2 separate regions of the Homo sapiens genome follow, and region 1 is linked to region 2. The links come from fine-mapping of genetic effects on gene expression. A gene starts in region 2. The other region holds a variant in brackets. All regions are shown on one strand. Distances are from middle to middle. Region 1 overlaps ATP6V0D1-DT (ATP6V0D1 divergent transcript). Region 2 holds the start of ENKD1 (enkurin domain containing 1).

Region 1 (15,467 bases), 160 kb after region 2:
TGTTGTCCAGGCTGGTCTTGAACTCCTGAGCTCAAGTGATCTGCTAACCTCAGCCTCCCAAAGTGCTGGGATCACAGGCATGAGCCACTGCACTCGGCCCTCAGAGTCTTTTTTTTTTTTTTTTTTTTTTTTGAGACGGAGTTTTGCTCTTGTGACCCAGGCTGGAGTTCAATGGCGCCATCTCGGCTCACTGCAACCTCTGCCTCCCAGGTTCAAGCAATTCTTCTGCCTCAGCCTCCCGAGTAGCTGGGATTACAGGTGCCCGCCACCACACCCGGCTAATTTTTGTATTTTTAGTAGAGACAGGGTTTCACCATGTTGGCCAGGCTGGTCTCAAGCTCCTGACCTCAGGTGATCCATCTGCCTCGGCCTCCCACAGTGCTGGGATTACAGGCGTGAGCCACCGCACTGGCCAGAGCCTCCTTTTTGTTCCCACAGTGATGACTTGAGTCTCATCCCCCACATCTCTTGCTCCACTTCCCCCACTTAGGATGACCTTCGGACACCTCCAAATCCATTGTGTAAAGTCAGCCCCATCTCCTCCCTTCAGAACTGCCCTCCCTCCTGGGTCCCCATGTAATCTTTCCCCAGACCTCTTCCCTGACACCCTCCAGCCACCAAGTGAGTCCCCTCTTCCCTATGCCCACTTTCCTGCCCTTGGCTAGACTATCACTTGCCAAGGATACACATCACTCGGTGTCCTTGTTCATTGTCCACGCAGCAGCTGGATGACCTCTGCCCGTGGGACCTGTCTCTCCTCACTTCCCCACTGGCCCCTCACCCCTGGCCAGTTCCTCCTTAGGAGGGCGTAGTTCCAGCTGGACTGAACTTCTTTGTGTCCCTGGATACACCCTGCCTTCCCTACCTCTCCATCTTTGCACAGGGTGGGCCCTGAAGTGTTTTTTTTTTTTTTTTGAAACAGAGTCTTTCTCTGTTGCCCAGGCTGGAGTGCAGTGGCACAATCTCCACTCACTGCAACCTCCGCCTCCCAGGTTCAAGCAATTCTCATGCCTCAGACTCCCAAGTAGCTGGCACTACAAATGTGCATCAGCACGCGTAGTAGTGCATTTTTAGTAGAGGCCGGGTTTCATCGTGTTGTCCAGGCTGGTCTCAAACTCCTGACCTCAGGTGATCCACCCACCTCAGCCTCCCAAATTACTGGGATTACAGGCATGAGCCACTGCGCCTGGCCTGGGCCGTACAGTTGAATGCCTTTTCCTCTTTCCTTCGCCTAACTGCTGCTCACCCTTGAGGTCTCAGCCGAGACCCACTTCCTTTGAGACAGTTTCCTGGACCGCAGGCTGGGTCCGGAACCTCTCCTTCTCTCTTACAAAGCCCTGTGCAGCCCCCTTCTCTGCCCTTGTCTGCCTCCCCTTCCAAGAGCGCCACCTGCTCTGCTCAGGGTTCCACACCCCAAGACCGGGTGCAGGTTGAGTCACCTGACTCTGTCACCCTGCCCAATTCCCAGACTCAGAGGTCCCAGATCTCAGAGGTCACTGAGTTCCAGAGGGAGCAAGGCCATGCTTGAGGGTCGCCACAGTGAGCCAGTGGCCAGGCTGGGCTGGGACCCAGGACTCTTACCTTCCCCTCCAGGGCTCCCGCGCTCCCCCAGATGCCATCATGAGCAGAGTTGGGATCCTTGAGGGCCCAAGGGTCCTCAACCAGAAGGGACTTGGTGGGCTCCTGTCCTGGGGGGATGGCAGCCACCAGCCCAGGCTCTTGAGAGCCCAGGATGCTGGTGAGGGCTGTCCCAGGAAGCCAAGAGAGCCAATGTCAGCACATCTAATGAACTGCCTCCTTCTTCAACAGGGCTGGGCCGTGGGAGTGCTGGCCAACGTGCCAGGCAGGGAGGACCTGAATTCCTGAAGGTGGTGGTGGCAGCTGTTAGGGTCCACAGGTTAATGATCTCCAACGTCACACAGAAGAGAATGTGCTGAGGTGTGACCTCCCTCACCCTGCCTTGGCTGCGTGGGGCACCGTCTCTCCAGGACTCACCCTGCCCCCCAATAGACTGAAGTCTGAAGATCAGCCCAGTCTTCCTTCAGGCCTCAATGCCCTCTCACTTCCCCAGCCCGAGGGACTCCTGGCTCTTCTCGGAGGCTGCTCTGTGGGGTCCCTCCCTTGGGCCTTTGCTAATGCTGTGCCCTCTGCCTGTGCCAGAGGTGGGCCTGGGCCCGTTTCTCAGGGAGCTCCTGAACACCAAGAAATTGAATTGCTTTGTAAATAAACAAAAAGTGCCAAACAAGCCTGCCTGTCACTTGGGAGATGGCCCGTCTCTGCCCCACCAAATTTGCTAATCAAACAAATAACCTAAAATAGAATAGAAAGAACTCATCTAGACTTTTCTTGTACCTCTGCTCCCCAAACAGCTTCTCTTTTCAGGTCTCCGGAGCAGCCCTGTTCTCTCTAGCCCAGGCCTCTGTCAAAAATTCAGCCTGACCTTAATTAATTAATTATTATTATTTTTAATTAAAAAATTTTTAAATATATACAGACGGGTGGGTGTGGTGGCTCATGCCTGTAATCCCAGCACTTTGGAAGGCTGAGGCTGGCGGATCACCTGAGATCAGGAGTTTGAGACCAGCCTGGCCAACACGGCGAAACCCCATCAACTCTACTAAAAATACAAAAATTAGTTGGGCATGGTGATGCATGCCTATAACCCCAGCTACTAGGGAGGTTGAGGCAGGAGAGTCGCTTGAACCCAGGAACCCAAGCAATATATATACACAAACGAGGTTTCACCATGTTGCCCAGGCTGATCTTGAACTCCTGAGCTTAAGCAATCCACCCGCCTTGGCCTCCCAAAGTGTTGAGATTACAGCCATGAGCCACTGTGCCCGGCCTTATTATTTGAGTAAAGGTCTCACTCTTTCACCCAGGCTGGAGTGCAGTGTCATGATCATGGCTCACTGCAACTTTTAACTCCTGGGTTCACGTGATCTTGCCTCAGCTTCCTGAGTAGCTAGGACTATAAGTGTGTGCCAGCATGCCCAGCTAATTTCTTTTTTTAAATTTTTTTGTAAAGACAAGGTCTCACTATTTTGCCCAGGCTAGTCTTGAACTACTGCGCTCAAGCAATCCTCCCGCCTCAACCTCCCAGAGTGTTGGGATTACAGATATAAGCCACCGTGCCCAGCCTCAGCTTGAACTTTATATCTGAACGATCCTCCCGTAGGTGTTGGAGAAGCCTTCCAGGACCCCCATCCCAAACCTTCCTCCTTCTCACTTAACACAAGTGCAATGACTTGCTCAATGGCTGTGAGCTCTGTGGGGCCAGGGATGGTGGTGCCTCATTCACCAATCCATGTGCACTGCCTTCCATAGGAACTGGATGGATGCTCAATGACTCTCTGTTGGATTATGAATGGCAGGGGGCCTTGGGCACTGGGATATTGTCTTCCTCTCTGGAGCTGCCCAGTTTTTTGTTTTTTGGTTGTTTTTTTTTTTTTTTTTGCTGAGTAGGTGCATCTCAGTCTTCTATTAATAAATTGCCCGGAGGCACAGACTCTCTCAGGCAAGCCGTCTGGTTCCTTGCTATTTCGCTAGTCTTTCTCACTGTTGTTTTTCTCCCTGAGTTTCCACCGGAGCAAGCGGCTTGACAGTTTCACACTAAAACTAAACACTTTCCCCAAGATTCATCCTTCCTTAGTTCCTGGAATCTGCTTTTCATCTTTCTTGGCTTAGAAAGCCAGTGACTCATTTACTGATCCAGGATTCACTTCTCCACTGGAATTTCTTGCAGGAAATCTGAGAGTGGCAGGTGACATCATTTTTCACTCCGCCTGCCCCCTCTTGTCTCTGAATTTACTTATCTAAAACTCCAGATTTGTTGAATTGTAAGAGGCAATGGAGTTGTTAGTTTTTCCTTTAATTTAGGTAGCCCTCATTACACCACGGCCCTGTACTCCTAGGGGCTCACCCCAGGGCCTTTGTAGAGCTTCCAAGGCCCCCAACCTCCAAACCTTACAAAATCACCTGTGTTTCCTTGCTAAGTTTCCACATAATGACAACAACTGGCTCTCACTGGAAATCTAGAAAGCCATAGGTTTATTTCTAATGTACTTTCAAAATGCCAACCCTTCTCACCCTTTCTAGCTACCCAGAAATCACACATACACACAAGTACAATTCCTAATTTGTAATAATCTAAAAGCTCAAATGAAAATTATAGAGTCCATAGCCTGAACATAGTCAGTGTTTATGCTGTGACTGAAATGACCTAGGGGTTTGGTCTAGGTCCTGCTGCTCGCCACACAGAAAGCCAATCACTGAAACGAGTATTGCCAGGAAAGAAGGCTTTATTCATGTATTGCAGCTGAGATGAGAGATCAGTCTCAAATCCGTCTCTTTGACTGAACGAAATTAGGGGTTTAGGCCAGGTGTGGTGGCTCATGCCTGTAATCCCAGCACTTTGGGAGGCGGAGGGGGGGCAGATCACGAGCTCAGGAGTTTGAGACCAGCCTGGCCAACATGGCAAAACCCCGTCTGTACTAAAAATACAAAAATCAACCAGGCGTGATGGTGTGTGCTGATAATCCCAGCTACTCAGGAGGCTGATGCAGGAGAATCACTGAACCCAGGAGGCAGAGGTTGCAGTGAGCCAAGATCGTGCCACTGCACTCCAGCCTCAGTGACAGAGCCAGACTTTGTATCAAAAAAAAAAAAAAAAAAAAAAAAAAAAAAAAAGGCCGGGCGCAGTGGCTCACGCCTGTAATCCCAGCACTTTGGGAGGCCGAGGTGGGCAGATCCCCTGAGGTCAGGGGTTCGAGACCAGCCTGGCCAGCATGATGAAACCCCATCTCTACTAAAAATACAAAAAATTAGCCAGACATGGTGGCAGGTGCCTGTAATCCCAGCTACTCAGGAGGCTGAGGTGGGAGAATTGCCTGAACCTGGGAAGCAGAGGTTGCAGTGAGCCAAGATCATGCCACTGCACTGTAGCCTGGGCAACAAGAGCGAAACTCTGTCTCAAAAAAAAAAAAAAGATTTTAAGGGTTTATATAGCAGGCTAGAAATGTGATCTTGTATGGGAAAACAGGAATTAGGGAAGGGCAAGGAAGAGGAGTTGGTCAATAGGAAGCAGGTGGCTGGTTAGGCAGTTATTTATTTATTTATTTAGAGACACATTCTTACTCTGTCACCCAGGCTGCAGTGCAGTGGCGCGATCTTGGCTCACTGAAACCTCTGCCTCCTGGGTTCAAGTGATTCTTGTGCCTCAGCCTCTCAAGTAGCTGGGATTACAGGCATGCCACCATGCCTGGCTAATTTTTGTACTTTTAGGAGAGATGGGGTTTTGCCATGTTGGCCAGGCTGGTCTCAAACTCCTGACCTCAGGTGATCCGCCTGCCTCAGTCTCCCAAAGTGCTAGGATTACAGGTGTGAGCCACTGCACCCAGCATGATTAGGCAGTTATGATGGGTATGGGGTCTGGTAACATATTGTCCAGATGCAGTGATCTGTAAAGTTTCAGTTCCTTGATACTACCTGGGAGGCCTGATGGTTGGTTTCCTGAGAAAGGAACTAATCAATAGATCGGAGCAAGAACAGAGCTGTAGGGCTATAACCCCCGTGAACTGAGAAGACCAAGTGAGAAGTTCCCAGGAAGTCCCAAAAGGAGAGCAAGCGTAAACATGCACCCACAAGGGGGCGTGCATTTACTGTCTTTCAATTAAAAACAATTTTTTTTTTGAGTCAGCGTCTTGGTCTGGTGTGCAATGGTGCAATCACAGTTCACTGTAACCTCCAACTCCTGAGCTCAAGCGATCCTCCCGCCTCAGCCTTCCAAGTAGCTAGGACCACAGGCTCGTGCCACCATACCTGGCTAATTTTATTTTTTAATTTTAATGATTTTTTTTTTTGAGACAGGGTCTTGCTCTGTCACTCAGGCTGCAGTGCAGTGACATGATCATGGCTCACTGCAGCCTCAACCTCTTGGACTCAAGCAATCCTCCCATCTTAGCCTCCAAAGTAGCTGGGATCACAGGCATGTACCACCACACCTGGCTAATTTTTGTATTTTTTTGTAAGACATGGTCTCGCTATGTTGCCTAGGCTCATCTCCCATTCTGAGGCTCAAGAGCTCCACCTGCTTCAGCCCCTGCAAAGTGCTGGGATTACAGGTGTGAGCCACAGTGCCCAGCCCATTTGAGTATATTATTTGGATAAATATTTATTTTACACAGTTTTTTTTTGTAGAAATGGGGTCTTGCTATATTGCCCAGGCTGGTCTCAAACTCCTGGGCTCAAGCAATCCTCCCACCTCAGCCTCCCAAGTAGCTAGGACTACAGGTGTGTACTACCACACTTGGCTCTTTACCCACTTTTGCACTGAGTTGTTTGATTTGCAAATATTTTTTCCCATCCTGTGGATTGTCTTGTCTTTTCACTCTCTTTTTTTTTTTTTTGAGCCGGAGTCTTGCTCTGTCACCCAGGCTGGAGTGCAGTGGCACAATCTCGGCTCACTGCAAGCTCCGCCTCTTGGGTTCAAATGAGGCTACTCCTCCTGAGTAGCTGAGATTACAAGCGTGTGCCACAATACCCAGCTAATTTTTGTATTTTTAGTAGAGACAGTATTTCACCATGTTGGTCGGGCTGGTCTTGAACTCCTGACCTCATGATCTCCCCGCCTCAGCCTACCTAAGTGCTGGGATTACAGGCTTGAGACACCGCGCTACCATACTCAGCCTTTTTTTTTTTTTTTTGAGATGGAGTCTCGCTCTGTCGCCAGGCTG[G/A]ACTGCAGTAGGGCGATCTTGGCTCACTGCAACCTCCACCTCCTGGGTTCAGGTGATTCTCCCGTCTCAGCCTCCCAAGTAGCTGGGACTAAAGGCGTGCTCCAACACACCCGGATAATTTTTGTATTTTTAGTAGAGATGGGGTTTCACCATGTTGGCCAGGATGGTCTCAATCGCTTGACCTCGTGATCCGCCCACCTGGGCCTCCCAAAGTGCTGGGATTACAGGCGTGAGCCACCACGCCTGGCCGAGTCTTTTCTTTTTAAATTATTTTTAAACTTCTTTTTTTGTTTGTTTTTTTGAGACAGCATCTCACTCTGTTGCCCAGGCTGAAGTGCAGTGGCATGACCATAGCTCCTTGCAGCCTTGAACTCCTGGGCTCAAGGGATCCTCCCACCTCAGCCTCCCGAGTAGCTGGGCCAACAGGTGCATGTCACCACTCCTGGTTAATTTTTTTTTTTTTTTTTTTTTTTGAGACGGAGTTTCACTCTATCGCCCAGGCTGGAGTGCAGTGGCGTGATCTTGGCTCACTGCAAGCTCTGCCTCCCGGGTTCACGCCATTCTCCTGCCTCAGCCTCCCAAGTAGCTGGGACTACAGGCGCCCGCCACCACGCCCGGCTAATTTTTTGTATTTTTAGTAGAGACGGGGTTTCATCGTGTTAGCCAGGATGGTCTCGATCTCCTGACCTTGTGATCCGCCCGCCTCAGCCTCCTAAAGTGCTGGGATTACAGGCGTGAGCCACCGCGCCTGGCCCACTCCTGGTTAATTTTTAAATATTCTGTAGAGATGGGATCTTCCTATGTTTCCCAGGCTGGGCAACATAACAACATAATAACATAACATAAAATAATTTTAAAGGTGATAGGCCGGGTGTGGGGACTCATGCCTGTAATCCCAGCATTTAGGGATGCTGAGGTGGAAGGATTGCTTGAGCCCCGGAGTTCGAGACTAGCCTGGGCAACATAGAGAGCCTCAGCCTCACCTGATCTCCCTTCCTTCTCCTCCCTGGGGTTCACGGCTGGCCACCAGCCTGTCCTGTCATTCCTGTCATCTGCCTGACTCCCTCCTGCACAGAGGTTCAACAGCAGGCCAGCTTCAGGTTCCTGCACCTCTGGCAAAACATCTTGCCTCTTTTTACTTGTCAAAATGATGACAGAATGACTTCAAAGATACATTCACAAAAGCCACCTTCCTATCCCATCACTGAGGCTTCACCAGAGAGCTTACTACCCCAGGGCTGCGTACACCGTCGCCCTCACAGCAGGGTTCTAACTTTGCCTCCCCCATCGCCTGAGAGTGAGATGGAGAGCTCTGGGCAGGTGGACCCCCTCCAGATTAGTTCAGAAAGTCTGCATAACTACAATTGTTTTTTAAAAAAAAACCTTGCAATGTGGGTATAAATTTTTGCCCCAGGACCAGGCACAGTTACTCATGCCTGTAGTCCCAGCACTTTGGGAGGCCAAGGCAGGTGGATCGCTGGAGGCCAGGAGTTCAAGACCAGCCTGGCCAACATGGCAAAAACCTGTCTCTGCTAAAAATACAAAAATCACGGCCTGGCGTGGTGGCTCATGCTTGTAATCCTAGCACTTTGGGAGGCCGAGGCTGGCAAATTGCCTAAGCTCAGGAGTTTGAGACCAGCCTGGGCAACACGGTGAAACCCTGTCTCTGCTAAAAAAAAATACAAAAAATTAGCTGGGAGTGGTGGCGTGCACCTGTAGTCCCAGCTACTCAGGAGGCTGAGGCAGGAGGATTGCTTGAACCCAGGAGGTGGAGGTTGCAGTGAGCCGAGATCACACCAGCCTGGGCAACAGAGCAAGACTCCCTCTCCAAAAAAATTAATACTAATAACACAAAAATCAGCCAGGCATGGTGGCATGTGCCTATAATCCCAGCTACTTGGGTGGCTGAGGAATGAGAATTGCTTGAACCCGGGAGGCAGAGGCTGCAGTGAGCCGAGATTGCACCATTGCACTCCAGTCTGGGTGACAGAGCGAGACCCTGGTCTCAAAAACAAACAAAACAAACAAACAAACAAACAAACACATCAGGCGCAGTTGCTCACACCTGTAATTCCAGCACTTTGGGAGGCCAAGGCAGGTGGATCATTTGAGGTCAGGAGTTCGAGACCAGCCTGGCCAACATGGTGAAACCCTGACTCTACTAAAAATACAAAAAAAATTAGCCAGAAGTGGCCAGGCGCGGTGGCTCACGCCTGTAATCCCAGCACTTTGGGAGGCCAAGGCGGGCAGATCATGAGGTCAGGAGATCGAGACCATCCTGGCTAACATGATGAAACCCTGTCTCTACTAAAAATACAAAAAAAAAAAAAAAAAAAAACCCGGGAGGCTGAGGCAGGAGAATGGCGTGAACCAGGGAGGCAGAGCTTGCAGTGAGCCGAGATTGCACCACTGCACTCCAGCCTGGGTGACAGAGCGAGACTCTGTCTCAAAAAAAAAAAAAAAAAAAAAAAAATTAGCCGGGTGTAGTGGCAGGTGCCTGTAGTCCCAGCTACTTGGGAGGCTGAGGCAGGAGAATGGGGTGAATCCAGGAGGTGGAACTTGCAGTGAGCCGTGATCGTGCCACTGCACTCCAGCCTGGGTGACAGAGCAAGACTCTGTCTCAAAAAAAAAATTAGCTGGGAGTGGTGGCGTGTGCCTGGAGTCCTAGGTACTTGGGAGGCTGAGGCAGGAGAATCGCTTGAACCTGAGAGGAGGAGGTTGCAGTGAGCCAAGATCACTCCACTGCACTCTCCCATGCCTGGAAGACAGAGCAAGACTCCATCTCAAAAAAAAAAAAATTTCTCTTCCAAATACCACCTTTGTGCAAGAAACATCAATCTGAATCTGAATTCCCTTCTGCCAAGTAATTACAGTCATGCAGCACTTAACAATGGTAATATGTTCTGAGAAGTAAGTCCTATTTTATCATTGTGTGAACATCACAGACTGTACTTACACAACCCCAGATGGTATAGCCTACTACACGCCTAGGCTACAAACCTGCACAGCATGTTACTGTGCTGAATACTGTAGGCAGTTGTACCACAACAGCTAATATCTGTTCATGTAAACATATCTAAACATAGAGAAGGTTCAGTAAAAATACAGTATTATGATCTTATGCGACCACTGTCATATATGCAGTCCACTGTTGACCAAATCGTCGTTATGCTGTGCATGACCCCGTTGGGGTCCCCTCCCCTCCTCTGGCTGAGAAATGACCCAGGTCTTGCTTGGAGCAGAGCTTTGGCTTTGTGTCCCTTTTGGCCCACCACTGAGGGTCTGTCACTGCCCACACTCACAAGGCCCTAGAAGGGGCAGCTGAGATAGGACTCAAGGACATTAGTCAAGACTGGTGCCTAATTCTTTTTCTTATTTATTTATTTATTTATTTTTATTTTTATTTTTATTTTTTTGAGACAGAGTCTCACTCTGTCGCCCAGGCTGGAGTGCAGTGGTGCCATCTAGGCTCACTGCAAGCTCCGCCTCCCGGGTTTACTTACACCATTCTCCTACCTCAGCCTCCTGAGTAGCTGGGACTACAGGCGCCCCCCAACACGCCTGGCTAATTTTTTGTATTTTTAGTAGAGACAAGGTTTCACCGTGTCAGCCAGGATGGTCTCAATCTCCTGACCTCGTGATCTGCCCGCCTCAGCCTCCCAAAGTGCTGGGATTACAGGCGAGCCACCGTGCCCGGCCTTTATTTATTTTTTTGAGATGGAGTCTCGCTCTGTTGCCAGGCTGGAGTGCAGAGGCACGATCTCAGCTCACTGCAACCTCCACCTCCTGGGTTCAAGCAATTCTCCTGCCTCAGCCTCCCTAGTAGTGGGGACTACAGGCACGCACAACAACACCCAGCTAAGTTTTGTATTTTTAGTAGAGATGGGGTTTCACCATGTTGGCCAGGATTGTCTCGATCTCCTGACCTCATGATCTGCTCGCCTCAGCCTCCCAAAGTGCTGGGATTACAGAAGTGAGCCACCACGCCGAGCTGACTGGTGCCTAATTCTTAGGGTTCAGCCTCACTGGGTGCACTCTGTACTTGCTCCCCACTGAGGTCTTGCCACTGTTCTGGACTTGGTGAGGGAGGGGGCACCGTTCCCACTGCATTGAGCCATGCCAACCACTGTCTACTCCCACTCCTTGTTGTGCCAGTGACATCCCACCAAGAGGAGTTCAAGTGTCTGTTTTTCCTCTGCTATCATACTTCTTGATCTTTGCCAATAGTCTAGGGTAGAGGGGTTGGCTCATGGCCAAATCTAGCCCACTGCTAGTGTTTGTGCAGCTTGTGAGCTAAGAATGTTGGTTTTGTTTTTAATTTTTTTTGAGACAGGATCTCACTCTGTCACCCAGGCTAGAGTGTAGTAGTGCGATCATGGCTCACTGCAGACTCAGTCGCCTGGGTTCAGGTAATCCTTCCACCTCAGCCTCCCGAGTAGCTGGGACTACAGGTGTGAGCCACCATGCCAGGCTAATTTTTAAATTTTTCTGTAGAGACAAGGGTCTCAGGCTGGTCTCTCAAGCAACCCTCTTGCCTTGGCCTCCCAAAGTGCTGGGATTACAGGTGTGAGCCACCGTGCCCAGCCAAGAATTTTTTTTTTTTGAGATGGAGTCTTGCTCTGTCACCAGGCTGGAATGCAGTGGCGTGATCTTGGCTCACTGCAGCCTCCCCCTCCCAGGTTCAAGCAATTCTCCTGCCTCAGCCTCCTGAGTAGCCAGGATTACAGGCGCCTGCCACCACACCCGGCTAATTTTTGTATTTTTAATAGAGACGGGGTTTCACCTTGTTGGCCAGGCTGGTCTCGAACTCCTGACCTCTTAATCCGCCCGACTCAGCCTCCTAAACTGCTGGGATTACAGGCACAAGCCACCACACCTGGCATTAGAGATCCTGTCTTACAAAAAAAAAAAAAAGTACTGGGGGCGGTGGCTCATGCCTATAATCCCAGCATTTTGGGATGCCAAGGTGGGTGGATCACTTGAGGTCAGGAGTTCGAGACCAGCCTGGCCAACATGGTGAAACCCTGTCTCTACTAAAAATACAAAAATTAGCCGGGCATGGTGGTGGGTGCCTGTAATTCCAGCTACTTAGGAGACTGAGGCAGGAGAACTGCTTGAATCTGGGAGATGGAGTGTCTTGCAGTGAGCCGAGATTGCACCACTGCACTCCAGCCTGGGCAACAGAAGGAGACTCCATCTCAAAAAAAAAAAGGTCTGAAGTAGATAGTGGCAATGGGTATACAACATTATGAATGTACTTAATGCTACTGACATACGCTTAAAAATGGTTAAATGGTAAGTTTTGTTTTTTAAAATCACAATTTAAAAAAATTACTTTAAAGAAAGAAGTGGCTGAACCCTAGATCCCTTCCTCAACTCAACCCGGATGGTGCTGCCCTTCTCCCACACCAGCAGATGATAGATAATAGAGTGTCTCTAGACTGGGGAGCACCAGGCAGTTAGGAGTCAGATTATCATCCGAAAAGCAGAATGATTACAGAGAAGTTTATATACTGAATATGTAGGCACTGCTCTTCTTCTCTAGGAAGGATCTAGAATGCCAGCAGCCAGAGTATACCTGCAGGCAGGAGATTGGCAGACACCTCAAGAGAAAATAATAAACACATTGACATTGACATTGAGCAGAGTGGAGAAGGAGGTTCTAAAGGAAATGACCACTCACTATGACACTGAAACTGTGCACAAGCCCCACTCAATGCCTACTACTGCCAATCAGTTTTCTAGGGCCTGACTCTTCTATATAAGGAGAAAACCAATAATCAGCAGATATTAGAGAAATAAAGGTAACACGGTAAGCAGAGATGAAAACAACAATAACAAATCAGAGGAAATGTACATTCTGCATTAATATTCTCAGAGATATTAGAGAAGACATTACATCCATAAAGCAAGAACAGCATGCCTCAGGAATAAAAGGGGGAAAAAAATTCCAGAGAGCAATGTTAAAGCCTTGAAAAACGAAACATATGATAGCAGAAGTGAGAAACTCAATATAAGGGTTGGAAATAGAGTTGAAGAAATCTCCAGGAAGTAGAGCAAAATGACAGTAATGGAAAGTGTAAAGTGAAAGGGACCGGGTGCCGTGCTCACGCCTGTAATCCCAGCACTTTGGGAGGCCAAGGTGGGAGGATTACTTGAGGTCAGGAGTTCGAGACCAGCCTGGCCAACATGGTGAAACCCCGTCTCTACTAAAAATACAAAAATTAGTTAGATGTGGTGGTGCACATCTGTAATCCCAGCTACTCAGGAGGCTGAGGTGGGAGAATCACTTGAACGCGGGAGGTGGAGGTCGCAGTGAGCCCAGATCGCGCCACTGCACTCCAGCCTGGGTGACAGAGCGAGACTCCATCTCAAAAGAAAAAAAAAAAGAGACAGAGAGAGAGAATTTCCCATAATTGAGGTACTATGTGTGTTTCCAGATTGAAACGGCCTGTCCCAGGGTGGCTAGCTGTCACAGAGCAAAGGGTCTCAAACCTTTTGGTCTCATGACGTCTTTTCACTCTTCAGTATTTTTGAGGATTCTAAAGAATTTTGTTCATGTTGGTTATATCTATTATGAAAGGAAAATAAAATCTTGGGACCCCAAACTCATTATGTCAAAGGGAAAGTTAAGCTTGGGAACCACAAAAACTGCCTTCCTTTCCCAAACGGACAGCTGTAATTTCACAGGCTTAGTTATGTAAAATGTAGATCTACTAAGCCCGAGACAATGCATAGTTGACTCCCCCGACCCCTTTTCACATATAAAATGTAGAGTCACTGAGCTGCTAATCACAGCCTCACAACAATGTCACCACTTGCCGCCCTGCCTACCCTCCTGCCCGCTTTTTTCCCCTTTCCTCCCTCCCCTCCTGCTGCCTCTTTCCTCTTTGGAAAAAGCACAGGACACAGATCGTACTGTGACTTGTGTCTCTTTTTCCCCGGGCGTGTCCTCAACCTTGGCAAGATAAACCTCTAAATTGATTGAGATGCCTCAGTCACTTTTTGGTTCACACCATTAATATTTACCATGTGAGAAATTAAAACAGAGAAAATGTTTACATGTTTATTAATTTATTTAAAATGATATCATGAAACCATTACATGTTAACACAACTTTTTTTTTTTTTGAGAAGGTGAAGGTGTCTTGCTCTGTTGCCCAGGCTGGAGTGCAGTGGTGCGATCTTGGCTCACTGCAACCTGCCCCTCCCAGGTGCAAGCAATTCTTCTGCTTCAGCCTCTCAAGTAGCTGGGATTATAGGCGCATGCCACCAAGCCCAGTTATTTTTTTTTTTTTTTTTTGAGACGGAGTCTTGCTGTCGCCCAGGCTGGAGTGCAGTGGCGCGATCTCTGCTCACTGCAGGCTCTGCCCGCTGGGTTCACGCCATTCTCCTGCCTCAGCCTCCTGAGCAGCTGGGACTACAGGCGCCCGCCACCTCGCCCAGCTAATTTTTTGTATTTTTAGTAGAGATGGGGTTTCACCATGTTAGCCAGGATGGTCTCGATCTCCTGACCTCATGATCCGCCCGCCTTGGCCTCCCAAAGTGCTGGGATTACAGGCGTGAGCCACCGCGCTCAGCCAGCCCAGCTAATTTTTATATTGTTAGTAGAGATGGGGTTTCATTATGTTGGTCAGGCTGGTCTCGAACTCCTGATCTCAAGTGATCCTCCCACCTCAGTCTCCCAGCGTTGAGATTACAGGCATGAGCCACTGTGCCCAGCCAACACAACATACTTTTAATGAAAAATAACTACATTTTTCCAAACCAAAAAGAAAGTGAAAACAGTGGTATTGTTTTGTATTTTTTGCAAATCTCTTCAATGTCTGGTTTAATATTCTGGTTTAATTCCCATATCTGCTTCTATACTCAACCTGTTTCAACATCACATGTCACAAACAGCCAGGCGCAGTGGCTCACACCTATAATCCCAGCACTTTGGGAGGTGAAGGCGGGAGGATCACTTGAGGCCAGGAGTTGGAAGACCAGTCTGGGCAACATAGCAAGACCCCTCTGTCAGTATAAAAAACAAAATAAAAAAACACATGTCATGTAGCCTCTGGAAAATCCCACTGTACACTCATGAAAGACAAATAATATCTTTTTTTTTTTTTTTGAGACAGTGTCTTGCTCCATCACCCAGGCTGGAGTGCAGTGGTGAGATTTCAGCTCACTGCAATCTCTGCCTCCCGGATTCAAGCAATTCTCCTGCCTCAGCCTCCTCCTGAGTAGCTGGGATTACAGGCATGCATCACCACACCCAGGTAATTTTTGTATTTTTAGTAGAGACTGGGTTTCACCATGTTGGCCAGGCTGGTCTGAAACTCCTGACCTCATTATCCATTTGCCTTGGCCTCCCAAAGTGCTGAGATTATAGGCGTGAGCCACCGTGCCCAGCTGACAAATAACATCTTAATATTACCGTGAACCTAGTGTAGACTTTATGGATACTTCAAAAGGACCGCACTTTGGAAACCACAGAGTTAAACAATATCAAGTCTCATTGGCTTCATGCAATAAAAATGTACTCCAATGAAGACTGGCCAGCTTCCCATGGAGAGCTGGCTTTTTCCATCATGCTGTAAATTATACCATCTGGAATGCGTGGTTTCCAAGTTTACTGAGAGAGAGAAGGGGGCTGGTGAATCAGGTGGGATGCTTTTAAGGGTAGGGCCTGAGCCAGGCACACTGGCTCATGCCTATATGACATCAGCTATTAGGGAGGCTGAGGTGG
Region 2 (15,467 bases):
CTTTGTCCAGCTTTGTTTACCTCTGGGTGCGTGTTGGCTGCAGCGTACCCAGAATGGGTGTGAGGGCAAAAAGGGTATTCTCACTTCCTTCCCTTCCTGCCGGAGCCAAACATGTTCTAGCCTTGGGCCACTCTAACTTGTTGGACCAGTGTTTTCAGAGAACAATCTGCAGGGAATCTTAGGGCCCTCTCTGGAGTTATGACTAAGAGTAGAAGTTATGAATAGTCCATCCCCTAGAAAATAGGTTAGATTTCCTTGCCCCAAGCTGATGACCTAATAAATGCATGACAACATAGAGACACGTCCATGAAGTGTGCCCACCTCTCTAGCCCACCTGTGTTATTCAGGGTTCTCCAGAGAAACAGAACCAATAGGGTGTTTAAGACAGAGATTTATTTGAAGAAATTGGGGCCAGGCATGGTGGCTCACACCTGTAATCTCAGCACTTTGGGAGGCCAAGGCAGGAGGATCACTTGGGCCCTGCCTAGGCAACAGAGGAGGACCCCATCTCTACAAAAAAAAAATTTTAAATTAGCCAGGCGTGGTGGTACACACCTGTGGTCCCACTTAGGAGGCCAAGATGGAGGATCGCTTGAGGCCAGGAGATTGAGACTAGCCTGGGCAGCATAGCAAGACCCCACCTCTACAAAAAAGAAAAAAAAATTAGTTCGTGCAGTTGTAAGGCAGAGAAGTCCAAAATCCTCAGGGCAGGCGGACATGCTGGAGATTCCCCCTTGAAACTTTGAGATTTCCTGTTGTGTCCTGTTGTTAGGTATTGGGAAGAATGTGGTTTGCGAGAAGGCAGCAACATCGGTGGATGCCTTCCGGATGGTGACAGCCTCGCGCTACTACCCGCAGCTCATGAGCCTGGTAGGGAACGTGCTGCGCTTCCTGCCTGCCTTCGTGCGCATGAAACAGCTGATTTCGGAACACTATGTGGGAGCGGTGATGATCTGTGATGCCCGCATCTACTCAGGCAGCCTGCTGAGCCCCAGCTATGGCTGGATCTGTGATGAGCTCATGGGCGGCGGGGGCTTGCACACCATGGGGACCTACATTGTGGACCTGCTGACCCACCTGACCGGCCGGAGAGCCGAGAAGGTGCACGGGCTGCTCAAGACATTCGTGAGGCAGAACGCTGCCATCCGTGGCATCCGGCACGTCACTAGCGATGACTTCTGTTTCTTCCAGATGCTCATGGGTGGGGGTGTGTGTAGCACAGTGACACTCAACTTCAACATGCCAGGCGCCTTTGTGCATGAAGTCATGGTGGTAGGCTCTGCAGGACGCCTCGTCGCCCGGGGAGCCGACCTCTATGGGCAGAAGAACTCTGCCACGCAAGAGGAGCTGCTCTTGAGGGACTCGCTGGCAGTGGGCGCAGGACTGCCTGAGCAGGGGCCCCAGGATGTCCCGCTGCTGTACCTGAAGGGCATGGTCTACATGGTGCAGGCCTTGCGCCAGTCCTTCCAGGGGCAGGGCGACCGCCGCACCTGGGACCGCACCCCTGTCTCCATGGCCGCCTCCTTCGAGGATGGGCTGTACATGCAGAGCGTGGTGGATGCCATCAAGAGGTCGAGCCGATCCGGGGAGTGGGAGGCTGTGGAGGTGCTGACGGAGGAGCCCGACACCAACCAGAACCTGTGTGAGGCACTTCAGCGGAACAACCTATGAGCCTGCACCTGGGCTCCTTGCCACAGGGCAGAGGGACCAGGGAGGGGAACAGGAGCCAGACATGACAGGGACTTGGCCCTAGCAGAGACAGTGTCTTTCATTTAATGAGTCTGGGTGAAGCCAGAGGTGGCTCTGGGACTTCGCCCCCTCCAGTGGCTCATCTGCTCCTCAGACTTGCAGGGTGGCAAATGTTCCTGTTGCCAGGTTACCACGGTGTGCACAGGGCAGAGCTGCCGCCAGGCCTCCTCATGGTGATGCCAGTGAGTCGGACCAGGAAAGGCTCACCCTGGGGAGCCCTTCAGCCTGATCCGCAGTCCTAACAGGGTGAGAAAGCACAAGAGGGGCCAGCTCGGCTGAGGCCTGAGGAGAAATGATGAGAAGTTTTGTTTCGTTCTTGGGCTGGGGCATCTCAGGAACAGTGAGGGCAACAAGCTGTCCCTCAGGGACCCTCACCTGCCCTCCCATGTGACCAGGCCCTTCCCAGGTGGGGACTGGGGCTTGCTTTATTAAGTGAGCTCTTGGGCTTTTGAAGTAGGACAGAGGGCCCTGGTTTGGCAGAGAGGAGGCAAGGGAGGGCTTTAGAACATCTGAGAAATGTTAATAAATAATTCAGAAAATAGGACATGGCATGTGGTTTTTGTTTGGTAGGTTGGGTTTCTTTAATACTGAAAGGCTTGTTTCTGGCTGGTAGGGGGTTTTTCTCTACTCATTGCTCCACAGCAGCTCGGAGCCAGCGTGGGTCATCACCGCCAACTGTGCCACACGGGCCGCTGCCCCTGCCAGCCCTCGTCTCCTGCCTGTTCCCTCATAGCCAAATCCCAGGAGCCTCAGAAGAAAAGATTTCCTCAGAGAACAGGACTCAGGACTTCCTAATGGGCTGCTGCTGGGCCTGCCGTCTCAGCAGATAGCGGGAGAGTTTGGGGCCTCACTGGGGTGGAGGTTAGGAGGGGTTCTGTTCTTAATGTCACGGTGTTGGCTGCCAGAGTGCTCTTGAGGTGGCGGGGAGGAGTGGTTTCAGGGAGGTGGCACAGGGTGAGGAGGAGGAGGAAGAGCTCCAGGCGTGCCCCATGGAGCAGCTGTGGCTGGACCCGAGGGCCAATCACCCACCATGCTCTTGACTGTGCTCTGCACAGGGCCAGCCTTCTACCCAGCTCTGCCAGAGGCGGCGGGGGGTGGGGGCGGGGGGGCACGGTGTTGAGAAAAGACATGCGTTCCCCTTTGCTTGTTTGACCAGCCTGCCAGGATCGTTCAGCCTGGACCAAGTTCTGTTCCCTTCTCTAACCTTCCGCCCTCTTCCCTGCCCTGGGCTCCTTGCCAGAAAAGCCCAGGGAGGGCTTCCTCTTCCTCTTGGCACCGCTTCTAGACGTCACCAGGCTTGTTTTCCTGTAATTTCCTGGATTCAGATGTCCTTGTGAGAGGGAATAACAAGGGATAGGGTTGGAGTGTGCCTACTGCATGCTGACCCTCAGGGCAAACGTGTATGTTATTATTTCCCTTAACCTCCAAACCACTCTCTGACGGTAAATATTCTCATCATTCAGATCATAAAATGGAGGCACAGAGGGCAAAGCTACTTGCCTCCTGTAGATTGTACATGATGGAGCCAGGAGCCTGGTCAGGACCATCTAACCACAGAGCCTGACCTTGAACCACGCTTCCTCCCAGCATTTGGGAATCTTCAGACCTGAGGGCCCGGCATTGCCCCTCCCTGTGGCAGGAGCCTCGGCCTGGCCTGAACTAGGAGGTGAAATGCAGATAGCACCCACCACCAGGCAGGACACCGAAGGTTAAAGGGGAGGCTGCCCCCTTGTCCCTGGGACAGTTAGCTCAGCTCAGTCCTCCCATGTGTTGCTAGGATGTCGAGGTCACTCTGAAATGTGGGAATTGACCAGGAAAGCACAAGCCTGACTTAGATGCTCCCACATAAGAAAGGGCCATGTGGCCAACCCAGAATGGCACTCGGGTTCCCAGAATGTGCTGGGGGGAGGGTACTGCAGTGGGCTGAATGCAGAGCTGCTTTAATGAGGACCCCGGTTCCTCTGAGGGAATCCCCAGAGCCTAGATTCACGGCCAGAGTGGTGCATGGCCCCTTCCCTCAGACGTCTTTACCATCGAGTTATCCTGGGCATCAGAGCTGGTCAGTCCCACACTGGGGATGGGGAAGACAGATGTGCCCAGATGCCTGTGGCCAAGGGAGCCCACAGGGTTCTGGTCTCCATGGGTGACTGAACCCACACTGGTTCTAGACTTGTCCGGCAGCACCCCCTCCTGGAAGAAGGCAGTAGCATCTCCCAGGACCTGTTTCCAAATCTCAGGATGTTACCAGCTCTTCCTCAGGTCAAAATAAAGTTTTTCCAGGACAGTAAAAATGCAGTTAGCTTGGCTCGTCAGATACAGCAACCAGAAGAGAACTTCCCAAATACCTGTCGCTTATTCTTCAACCTCCAGCCAAATCCAGGACTGTTTTCACCTAGACGATGGCAGCCACTTCCTTTCCTGTTCTGCCCATCACCCTGCTGGCCAAGCAGCCTCTCCTGAATGTCACGCCAAGATCCCTCCCTATCCACACCCTTCCTCCTCACCCCCGGACTTGACCAACCTGGTTTCCATATGGCCATGCCCTCCTCTCCAGCCACACTAAGAGCCCTCCTGCAGAGGTGGCAGCTTCCATACTAGCAGGGCTTTGTCCCTGGCATGTCCTCTGCCTGGAAGGCACCACCTCTCTCTCTCAGGAGTCAGCTGGAGGACTGCCCGGTCACCACTTCTGACTTCAGCAAAGTAGCCACCTCCCAACCTGTGGTTCCACAGCCTTGGTCCTCAGTTGAGCTGAGGTTGCATGTCCCTCCATCCCTCCCTCCCTCCCTCTCTCCCTCTCCTTTTCTTTTCTTTTTTCTTTTCTTGTCTTCTTTCTTTCTTTTCCTTTTTTTCTCTCTTTTTTCTCTTTCCCTCCCTCCCTCCCTCCCTTCCTTCCCTCCCTCCTTTCTTTATTTATTTCTTTTCTTGACAGAGTCTCACTCTGTCACCCAGGCCGGAGTGCAGTGTCGTCACCTTGGTTCACAGCCACCTCCACCTCCCCGGTTCAAGCAATTCTCTTGCCTCAGCCTCCCAAGTAGCTGGGACTGCAGGCGCCCACCACCACACCTGGCTAATTTTGTTTGTTTGTTTCTTTTTGAGATGGAGTTTTGCTCTCGTTGCCTAGGCTGGAATGGAGTGGCGCAATCTCAGCTCACTGCAACCTCCACCTCCCTGGTTCAAGCAATTCCCCTGCCTCAGCCTCCCAGGTAGCTGGGATTACAGGCACATGCCACCAGTGCCCAGCTAATTTTTTTGTATTTTTAGTAGAGATAGGGTTTCACCATGTTGGCCAGGCTGGCTGGTTTCGAACTCCTGACCTCGTGATCCACCCACCTCGGCCTCCCAAAGTGCTGGGATTATAGGCATGAGCCACCGCCCCCAGCCTAATTTTTGTATTTTTAGTAGAGGCGGGGTTTCACCACATAGTCCAGGCTGGTCTTGAACTTCTGGCCTAAGTGATCCGTGCCCCCCTCAGCCTCCCAAGGTGCTAGGATTACAGGCATGAACCACTGCACCTGGCCACTTGTTTTGAATATATAATTTCAACTTTTATTTTACATTCGGGGGGTACATGTGCAAGTTTGTTACATGGGTATACTGTGTGACGCTGAGGTTTGGGGGACGATTGGTCTCATCACCCAGGTAGTGAACATAGTAAATAGGTTTTTTCAACAATCACCCCACCCCCTCTCTGCCCCCTCTCATAGTCTCATGTTTGTGTTTCCCATGTTTGTGTCCATGTGTACCCAATGTGTAGCTCCCACTTGTGAGAACGTGTGCTATTTGCTTTCCTGTTCCTGTGTTAATTTCTTAGGATAATGGTCTCAGCCGTTTCCATGTTGCTGCAAAGGACGCGATTTCATTCTTTTTTTTATGGCTGCATCATTTTTACTTCTTGAGACAGGGAAAAATGTTGCCCAGGCTGGTCTTGAACTCCCGGGCTCAAGCGATCCTCCTGCTTCAGCCTCCCAAATATCTGGGACTACAGACACAGACCACCACGCCCAGCTACACGTCTCCCTAAATAATGTAGCATTTCCTCTTTACAGCGAGCTTCTAGGAGCAGTAGGGACTTGGTCCTTTCTGCAGCTCCTACTACCCACCCTGCTTAGACAAGTCCATTGGGTAATAGGCCTCAGGAATTGCAGACTAGTTCTCCCACGATTTCTAATTCCTGCCTCACCTGTGAGAAGACAGGACCAGCTCTTCCTTATCAGTGCTGGCCTCGTTCACGCTTCCAGCCCTGGAGACCGCACAAAGATACAGAGGCCTTCTTGGGTCCGGCCTTAGCCAGAGAGCCCCCAGGTCGGCAGATCCTGCACAACTCAAGACAGGGATTCCTAGATCCCAGGGTGTGGTCTCATGCAAGGCCACTTCTCTCCAGGCCTCTGCCATCCCAAACATAAAGCAAGGAGGTTAAGCTCAATTATCTTGGCTGGGTGTTTTGGCTCATGCCTGTAATCCTAGCACTTTGGGGGGTCAAGGAGGGAGGATTGCTTGAGGTCAGGAGTTTGAGACCAAGCTGAGCAACACAGACCCTATCTCCACAAAAAAAATTTTTGGCCGGGCACGGTGGCTCACATTTGTAATCCTTGAGTCCGGGAGGCAGAGGTTGCAGTGAGCCAAGATTGTGCCACTGCACTCCAGCCTGGGCAACAGAGCGAGATGCTGTCTCAAAGAAAAAAAAAAGTCCTGACCCCCATGGCTTGTCATGGGGCCAGTGAGCACCCAAGTGACCCTGTCAAAGGAGGGAGCAGGCTGGGATGATGCCAGAAAGGGGACCCTGCTTTTCCCACCTGAACCTGCCCACCCTACTCCCTCCAGTGACCTTGCCAGGCCATATTCCAGGGAACCTACATATTAGACTGTGGCCTCGGGATGGCCTCAGCATTTCAGATTCTGGCCTGTCCCTCTCTGCAGCTTCCTCCACCCCTCACTTCAGTCTCATCACCTTGGTGCCTTTTAAGGGGCCCTCTGGCTAGGTCGATGTGATGCAATGAGATGTGCCCTTAGGGAGCTCACGGTCTAATCCCGATGACAGTTATAACCCACATGATAGCAATGCGCAGGGGCTGCAATGCAGGGCAACATGGGGTGCTGTCTGGCTCCCCAGGAAGCAGAATCCCAAGTTTTCAAAGGTGTGCGTGCACTAGCCAGGGGGAGAGGTGGGAATAAAGGCATTTTAGGCAGAGAAAGCCCCACATGCACAGAGTGAAGGGAGGAAAAGGTGTAACTGCTCAGGGAATTACCGGAAGCCACTGAATTCTAAGGTAGCTGGGGCAAGAGGAGGGGAATCCCAAGGGGGAGTGACACCATCAGGGGCTCAGGTGTGTGTGTCACAGGGCCACTGGATGGATCCGTGGGCCAAGGGATGACAGGCAGGGTGACCAGTGAGGCTGTCACCTGGAGATGACAGTGGTCCAGGCGACGGTGCTGACTGTGGGGTCCGAGAGGTTCTCAGCCTGAAAGGGTAGGATCACTGGCCTCAATGTCTGCTTAGCTTGTAGGAATCAGGGAGCAAAGAACAGGATGGGGTCTGGGGTGACACCCAAGATTCTAGCTTAAACAATTGTGCAGATGAGATACAGGAGGAAAAGCCAGTTGGAGGAAGGGGAAATTTCCATGAACTTAAAATTCCCTGTGTCTGTTTGTGGTGTCCAAGGAACACACAGGAGGCCCAGGATGTGCAGTTTCCAAAATGGCCAACACTGGCTGGCTCTTCCCAGAGATCCTTGCCGGTTGGACACAGCTGTCATCCAGTGGCTTGGCCTCAGGGTCCCAGATGCACTTACTGCCCCTGTCCACCCCTGCCTGCCAGGAAAACATCACTGATGCCCTGTCACCTGTGACCAGAGGCTACTCCACAGACAAGGTCCGGTCCAGCTATGGTCTGGCAATGAGTAGGAAACATCCCAAAGCTGTCACTGTTGTGACAGGCAAAAGAACTCTGTGCTACCTCCTAGGAGGATCCCAAGTTTTGATCCCCTCAAGGTGAGACCAAATGCAGGCCCTTCCCCAGGAGACAGAAGAGCAGGGCCAAACACCTGCTTCCCATGACCCAACAGACCCTTTCTTTTCTCTGCCCCAAGTTCCTCCTTCTCACTTCCCTCTTCATCACCCAGTTAGCTGCCTGACCCTCAGATTCACCTAAACACACAGCACCAGGTCCACCCTGATTCAGTGAGGCATGGGGTGGCACAAAGGAATCTGTCATTGTCAAAGTCTCAGGTGATGCAGATGACCATTCAGGCCTCAAACCCTGCACTGTTGAGTCCTCCATCCTCTTACCCATTTCAGGCAACCTATCTGGGGAATCACAAAGTCTTTGAAAAAGAAAAATATTTATTTTCAGCAAGACCAAAGTCCCAAGTGGGGGCAGGTGCCAAATTTGCCCCCGCCACCAGAGGGCCTAGGCCCACAGGAAGCCTGAAGCCAAATTCAGGCGTGGAAGGAGGGGAGCCACCAGTGGGGCGGGACAGTCACTTGTACTGAGGAGAGAGCGGGGGGACAAGTGGAGCAGTGCAGACACTCAGCATCTTGTCGATGTCCACCTGGGTTGACTTATCCACCTCGGCCTTGTGGTCACTCACCCCCAAGCTGGGCAAGCCCCCAGGCTCCTCTCCAGCCTCCTCTCCGAGGGGAGCCAGGGCATGGGTGGGGGTCACTAGTGGACTGGGACAGGGCAAAGCGAGGCCTGGGCCCAGCTCACCTGCCAAGGGCAGCAAGGCCTGCAGTTGCTCCACACCTCCCTCCTCGGGAACCGGGGCCAGCTCTGCCTCTGCCTCCACCTCAGCCTCCCCGTCCCCCTTCCCTGCCTGGTTCAGCTCAGGGTTGCAATAGTTGACGTACTGGTACAGCGGCCGCAGGCGCTGGGCCTTTCCTGCAAAGACCCAGGGCAGGGCAGAGGCTAGAGCGCCAGGTTGTGCCATGTCGGGCCCCACAGGCAGGGGGAGAAGGAACAGTCCAGGGACTGCCACTCACGCTCCAGCCTCAATGTCTCTAAGGGTGCAGACACCATGCTGGCCACAGCGTGGAGCACGGGAGCCCCCAGGCTCTTGCGCTTCTTGGCTTTTTTGTGCTGTTTGGCAGATGGTGAGGGCTCACTCTGGCTGTCCTCTGGCTCCTCCTCCTGCAGCGGCAGCTTGGGTGGCAGCTCAGCTTCAGCCTTAAGATGGGCACGAAGGCCCGGGAGGCTGAGAGACCTGAGCCAGGGACAAGAGACTTGAGCCAGGCTCCAGCCCTGGCTCCCATTCCCTGGCCCAGGGAATAGCCCAGCCTGCCCACAGCCCCAGGGCTCGACGCCTGTCCCGTTCCTGGTCAATGAGACCCCAGGCCCAAGAGGCTTAGAGGCCAGTGAGCCCAGGCCCCTACAAGCCCTGAAGCTCCCACTCTCCTGCTGCTCCCTACACGGGGGCTCTTGAGGAACGGGAGGAGAGTGATGGTAGTGGCTGGGGACGAGAATCCTCCCTGCAGGAGTGCAGGATTTAGGAATCCTACTGTGGTGTGTGCCCCAACCCCGGGGCTGCAGCTCCTTCCCCCCGAGAGCCCCCTCACTTGACAGGCTTTCTCTTTGGACCATGACGGGGCCTCACAATGGAGACCACGGGCCTGGGGCCTCTCTCCTCTAGCGCCCCGGCATGCGGCTTGGGCCGCTCCTCCCCCAGCTTGGGTCCTTCCTCCTGGAGCTCCGACTCCGAAGCTGCGCCTGCTGGGCGCTGGTCTTCACTCTGGGTTCCGCGGGCCTCATGGGCAGGCACCAGGAACTGGTCTCCCGCCACTGGACACTAGAGATGACACACAGGCCATCGGTCACCATGGCCGGGCAAAGGACATAGGGATCCGTCACTGAACACCTAACGTTAGACACCGAAACGGGAATAAGGACACCAGCCTGTGCCCCTCCCCGCCTGGAGGGCCCAGCCTGGCAGTTAGCGGGTCGGGGCGCTCAGTTCCACCTCTCAGAGCGCTGCGGCCCTGTGTTTGAAGGTTAAACAGCCTGACGGTCACCTCGGAGGTCTGAGCGCTGCCGGGCTCCTCCGTGAGCTGTCCCTGCCCCACGACCGTCGCCTCCTGGACCCCCGGCCGCCTCTCCGCCCCTGCCGAGGCCATGGCTGCGCAGGCTGAGTGCGTCCTCGACAGCTGCTTGGGGCGGGCCCCAAGGGGCTGGATGGTGGCCCCGCGCTGACCCCGGAGACCGGCCAGCAAGCGAGGGCAGAGCTGGGAAGAGAAACCGGCGACCGCGGAGCCCACCCTCGGCCGAAACTACAAGCCCCAGGACGCTTTGCGCCGGGGTCAGTGGGCCCTGACCCCGGGGACGGAAGCCACGGTTGCCCGGCAACAACAAGTCCCGTCGGGTGGCAGCGGCTGGCGGCAAAACCTCTCGAGTGAGCCCCTGCCCGAGTGCCGCGGGGGAGAGGCCGCGAGCGGGACCGAGAAGTGGGCTGGGAGCAGAGGTCGCGGAGGTGGCGAGCGAGGCCGGGGCCCAGGCGGGGACCGGCAGGGGCCCGGGAGTGGCGGGCACGCCAGGGTCAGGGTGCCGGGCGAGGGAGGGGGCCCGGGGTTGGGGAAGGGGGCCCGGGGAGGGAGGTAAACAGCCCTGCAGGCCTCGGGGCACCGTTGCTGGGCGGCGCCGGCGGCATGTGCGAGGGCCCGTCCCGCATCTCGGGGCCCATCCCCCCAGACCCGACGCTCTGTCCTGACAACTACAGGCGGCCGACCTCGGGTGAGTCCGGGGGCTTGGCGGTGGTGCGAGGCTCAGGGGTCGGCCCTGGCTCCACCTCTGAGCCCCGGACTCCGCCCGGCTCCGCCCCACAGCTCAAGGGCGCCTCGAGGGAAACGCGCTGAAGCTGGACTTGCTGACTTCCGACCGGGCCCTGGACACCACCGCTCCCCGTGGCCCCTGCATCGGTCCCGGTGCCGGAGAGATCCTGGAGCGCGGCCAGCGCGGCGTCGGGGACGTGCTGTTGCAACTCGAGGGGATCTCCCTAGGTCCTGGGGCCTCTCTCAAGAGTAAGTCCCAGGAATGGAAGAAGGGACAGAGAGGCAGTGCGGGGTGGAAAGAGATCAAAAGCAGCTGCTCTTTCCACCCTGACGTGGGCCCAGGCTTTGCATCTCTTGAGTCTCAGTTTCCCCAACTATAAAAGGGGGAGAAATATGCTACCTTCTCGAAGGAGGTGAACTGAATGAGGTAGTTCCCACGAAGCCCTAGCTCTGCTTTATGCATTTGTTACCCATTAAATTTGTTTGTTGAGTGCCTACTGTGTGCCAGGCCATATAGATGCTAGAACACAGGGCTGAAGATAAGCATGAGCCATCACTGAGTCAAGGTGGGATACAAAGATCAAGAGATGAATGTCATATATGAGATGATCTATGGTGTACTTCAATGGTGTACTTCACTATAATAATGGAGGAAATCACCTGGGCGCAGTGGCTCACTCCTGGAATCCCAGCACTTTGGGAGGCCCAGGCGGGCAGATCACTTGAGTCCAGGAGTTGAAGACCAGCCTGGCCAACATGGTGAAACCCCATCTCTACAAAAAATACAAAAATCAGGCTGGCATGGTGGAGTGTGTCTGTAATCCCAGCTACTCGGCAGGCTGAGGTAGCCGGGGAGGTTGAGGCTACAGTGAGCTATGATCATGCCACTGTACTCCAGCCTGGGTGACAGAGTGAGACCCTGTCTCAAATAATAATAATAATAATAATAATGGAGAAAATCATCCTGTGATACTTACTACATGAGGAAGGGAACACGGTGATGAGGGAGAGTGTGTGTAGGGTCTAAGGTAGTTGGAGAGGTCAGGGAGCTCTTTCTGTAGGAGGCAGGGGGCAGGCCTGTGTGTGAACTAGTGGAAGTTGGACTGTGTGGGCCCCATGTAGGGCAGAACCTGGGGGCATCTTTTCTCCAGGGAAGGACCCTAAGGACCATGAGAAGGAGAACCTGAGGCGGATCAGGGAGATTCAGAAGCGCTTCAGAGAACAGGAGCGCAGCCGGGAGCAGGGCCAGCCCAGGCCCCTGAAAGCTCTGTGGCGCTCACCCAAGTACGACAAGGTGGAGTCCCGGGTCAAGGCCCAGCTCCAGGTACCTGCTTCAGGGAGCCAGAAGTATTATCCATTTTGTTGGCCAACAGGCAACTGTACCCTGATCTGAGTTCTGGGGTGGGAGGGAAGTCACAGAGGTAACAGAGGACTAAGAGACCCTGGCTCTGCTGCAGGGCGAGGCTGGGGGGCTTCTCAGAAGTAGTGATGGTGGGGCTGATCCTGAGGGCAAGTAGCAATTAGTCAAAGGGACAGCAGAAGAGAACATTCCCAAAAGATGGAACCTCACAGACCACAGGGCACGCAGCAGTGGAGATGCTAGGTACAGTTCACTGTGAGGAAAGAAGGGCGTGAAGTTAGGCCAAGAAGTCAGCTGGACCCACGTCAGGGGCCACAAAAGCCACTTTTCAGCCCTTATTTCTGAGGACAGTGGGAAGGGCAGGGGTATGGTGGGGGGCTCTGTCTCAGGGACTCAGTAGGAGGAGCAGGAGTGAGAGGAAAGGCAAGGTCACACAAATGTGTTGTAGCTGAAGCATCTGTGGGGTTCCCAGGGGGTGGGAGTGTGTCCAGGAAGCAGATGGAAATTCAGGCCTGGATCTCAGGAGTGAGACCTAGGAGTTATTGACGATCAGGTTGAGGACAACGAGACCAAGGAATTGACCGCCTGGATTTGAGGACTTGGAGGCCAGCTGTTAGGAGCCTTGCAGGGCTAGAGCCAGGAAGCTTGGCTAGGAAGGAGGAAAGAGAGTGGTAGCTGGGCCAGTACTGAGGTGGAAGGAGAGATGGTTTGTTGTTTTCTTAAAAATCTGACATACTCACACATTTGTGTGCTGATGAGGACAAGTGTCCCTTGAAGAGGGAAGAGGGCCCGAGGGACATGGATGCAAAGGTCAGAAGGGCCAAGATGGCCAGGGTCTTGCAGCTTGAGCCCCAGACCTCAGCCTGCCTGCTCTCTCTGCTGTGCCCTGCCCTCCAGGAGCCTGGCCCTGCCTCTGGGACAGAGTCTGCCCACTTCCTGCGGGCGCACTCCCGCTGCGGCCCTGGCCTCCCACCACCCCATGTATCTAGTCCCCAGCCAACCCCACCAGGTCCCGAAGCTAAGGTGAGAGGATGTATGGGGGCTAGATGGTGGTTGGGCAGGGCTCCTGGTGTGGGGGGGGTGTTCAGGGACACAACATAATGCTGTCTGCCCCCACCCACGCTTGCTGTGTCCTGCAGGAGCCAGGCCTGGGGGTGGACTTCATTCGTCACAATGCACGAGCTGCCAAGAGAGCCCCCCGGAGGCATTCCTGCTCACTGCAGGTCCTGGCACAAGTGCTAGAGCAGCAGCGGCAGGCCCAGGAGCACTACAATGCCACGCAGAAGGGCCATGTGCCACATTAGTAGGTCTCACTGCCCGACACTCAGGGTGAAGGACACCTGTGGAGGGTGGGAACCAACCTCTGCCCTCGGGTCATCAACTCTGAGCCTGTGTACCCACAGCTTGTTGGAGCGCAGGGACCTGTGGCGGCGGGAGGCCGAGGCCCGCAAGCAGAGCCAGCCGGACCCTGCCATGCCCCCAGGCCACACGCGCATGCCTGAGAACCAGCGGCTGGAAACACTGACCAAGCTGCTCCAGAGTGAGTACCTGGGCAGGGAGGCTGGAGGGGGGCCCCACTGGGGACCGGGCACCCCTGCCCAACACTCACTGTTCTCACTGTTCCCGGGCCCCCTGTAGGCCAGAGCCAGCTGCTGCGTGAGCTGGTACTGCTGCCTGCTGGGGCAGACTCACTGAGAGCCCAGAGCCACCGTGCTGAGCTGGACCGGAAGCTGGTGCAGGTAGAGGAGGCCATCAAGATCTTTTCTCGGCCCAAAGTCTTCGTGAAGATGGACGACTGAGCCCCTTTGGGGGACAGTGGCAAGGAGCTCCATGCTGAGGATCGCCACATGGCTGCAAAGGACAGGGTTGGACCCAATCCCAGAGCAGAGGTCTGAAGACAGGAGCAGGGGGGTGGCCAGTGTCCCTAGAGCACTCTTCCCAGTCACCAGTGGCTGCAGAAGGGCCACCCTAGCCTTTTAACTGCTTTGTCAAAATTAAACATTTTGTACACAGGATTTGTTTCCATAAGAGCTTTTCTTACCCTAAAAATGCCAAGCCTGGTGGCCCTCCTGCTGCTTGATTGCAGGAAGTTCTCCCCAATGTCACTCCTGCCTTAGTCCAGAGCAGAAGGCAAGCTGGTGAGACCAGGGAGGAGGCTGGAACTGGGACACACAAGGACCATGACTGTATTTGTAGAAAACCTTTAATGTTCCCCAGGCTGAGGGAGCCCTGTGAGCCAGCTAAAAACCCCCACTGTGAAGTCCCTGCCATGTCCCAGCAGTGTGGAGTGGCATGGGGCTTCATCCTGACTGTCAGAGGCTGAAGCCACTACCATCTCCTCGAATGCGACTCCCCCAGCCAGAACTGGCCTGCTCCTGGTCATCCAGGGAGGGCAGAGAGCTGCGGGTACCAGGATGTCGGCAGCCAGGGTGCAGGTCCCAGCACGGGGGCCCCTGAGACAGCCCATTGGAACTGGGAGGCTGGCGGTTCTCAATGACCAGGTCACTGCTGTCATCGTCACTATCAGGCTCAGCAGGCCCAGGCCCTGCAGAGGGAGGACCTGTCAAACGCCCAGATGCCCCTCGCACCACGTTATTGCGCTGGTTGGCGGGCTTGACAGTGACAATGAGGTTATGGCTGTTGGCAACCATCATGTCCGTCACTTGGTCCAAGGTCTTCCCGGCTACTTCAATGCCATTGACCTCGAGGATCTCATCACTGACCGCCAGCAGCCCTGTACTCTCAGCCAGACCCCCACGTACCAGGCGGGAGATGAAGATTCCTGGAACCCGCTCCAGGCCCTGGGGAGCCACACGCACGCTCATGCCATCTCGGATGTAGAAGCCCAGGGGGCGGTCTGAACCATGCTTGTGCAGCCGCACCCGTCGGTGGGTCTCAGGCAGTAGGTCCACGTCTATGACTGAGGAAACCTGGCGGAAATCTTGGGGCAGGCTGATTAGCAAGGGTGGCCGGGTGCGCAGGGGTGCCACTGGCCGCAGCAAGAGCCCTTTCTTGCGCCGCTGCAGAGAGTTGGAGGCAAAAGCCAGGCCGCTGGAGTCAGCTTCTGCTGCAGAAGAGGGGGGATGTTGAGATCAGAGACCTGCTCCCCGACTTGGGCTGTTTACAGGGGGCACTGTAGCTATTTCCTACCACTTAGAGGTCAAGCCAAGGGCAGGGACTGCAGAGGGTGACGCTTGGGTACCCTGGGCATGGACTAACCCTTGTAGACCTGCCCCACAGACACCTTACCCCACAGAGGCTGCCCACTGTACCCCTCCTCACCCCGCTTCTGCACCAGTAGGCGCAGTGGCGGGGGCCCGCTGGCCAGGGCCCGGTGCAGGCTGTCGTCGTTGGTGAGGGGCAGCAGGTCGCCATGAGCATCCGTATAGCCAAGTAGCACGTCCAGGCCCGGGATCTGGTGCACCGCCCGCAGCAACCGCGAGAACTCCTGGAAGCCGCTCACCGAAGCGCGAGGCAGCGCGAAGCGTCGGAACTCGGCGTCAAACTGGAAGTCGGGGTTGGGGGAGAGGAGGAGTCAGGACAGCCTGCGCCCCTTTCTCACCGCAGGCTGGCAGGAATGGGAAAGATGCGGCTGCCGCTT

What was found.
Region 1: its variant is fine-mapped to the expression of ENKD1 in putamen (GTEx, PIP 0.97).

What each region holds. Positions count from the first base shown.
Region 1 is chr16:67,504,728-67,520,194 of GRCh38, reverse strand. It overlaps ATP6V0D1-DT (ATP6V0D1 divergent transcript), which reads right to left. Exons shown (of 4, transcript NR_184227.1): 4 at 13,792-15,467. It overlaps LOC100505942 (a long non-coding RNA gene), which reads left to right. Exons shown (of 2, transcript NR_104656.1): 2 at 1,810-2,489. It also overlaps a transcript of RIPOR1 not described here. Among named protein-coding and RNA genes, the nearest start is that of RIPOR1, 16 kb to the left of the region's middle. RefSeq lists enhancers at 1,284-1,343, 1,604-1,653, 1,664-1,753, 1,884-2,053, 15,358-15,467 and silencers at 5,374-5,543, 5,676-5,863. The variant G/A (reference allele first, on the strand shown) is at 6,735.
Region 2 is chr16:67,661,359-67,676,825 of GRCh38, reverse strand. ENKD1 (enkurin domain containing 1) reads left to right here and starts at 10,076. Exons shown (of 7, transcript NM_032140.3): 1 at 10,076-10,468; 2 at 10,561-10,755; 3 at 11,658-11,830; 4 at 12,764-12,889; 5 at 13,006-13,169; 6 at 13,270-13,406; 7 at 13,505-13,881. The coding sequence starts at 10,384. The coding sequence ends at 13,665. C16orf86 (chromosome 16 open reading frame 86) reads right to left here and starts at 10,012. Exons shown (of 4, transcript NM_001012984.3): 1 at 9,754-10,012; 2 at 9,301-9,530; 3 at 8,728-8,948; 4 at 8,071-8,626. The coding sequence starts at 9,855. The coding sequence ends at 8,226. PARD6A (par-6 family cell polarity regulator alpha) reads right to left here. Exons shown (of 3, transcript NM_001037281.2): 2 at 15,149-15,371; 3 at 14,052-14,930. The coding sequence ends at 14,179. GFOD2 (Gfo/Idh/MocA-like oxidoreductase domain containing 2) reads left to right here. Exons shown (of 3, transcript NM_030819.4): 3 at 773-2,290. The coding sequence ends at 1,671. RefSeq lists an enhancer at 3,675-3,734 and silencers at 9,645-9,694, 9,775-9,824, 9,845-9,894, 10,235-10,504.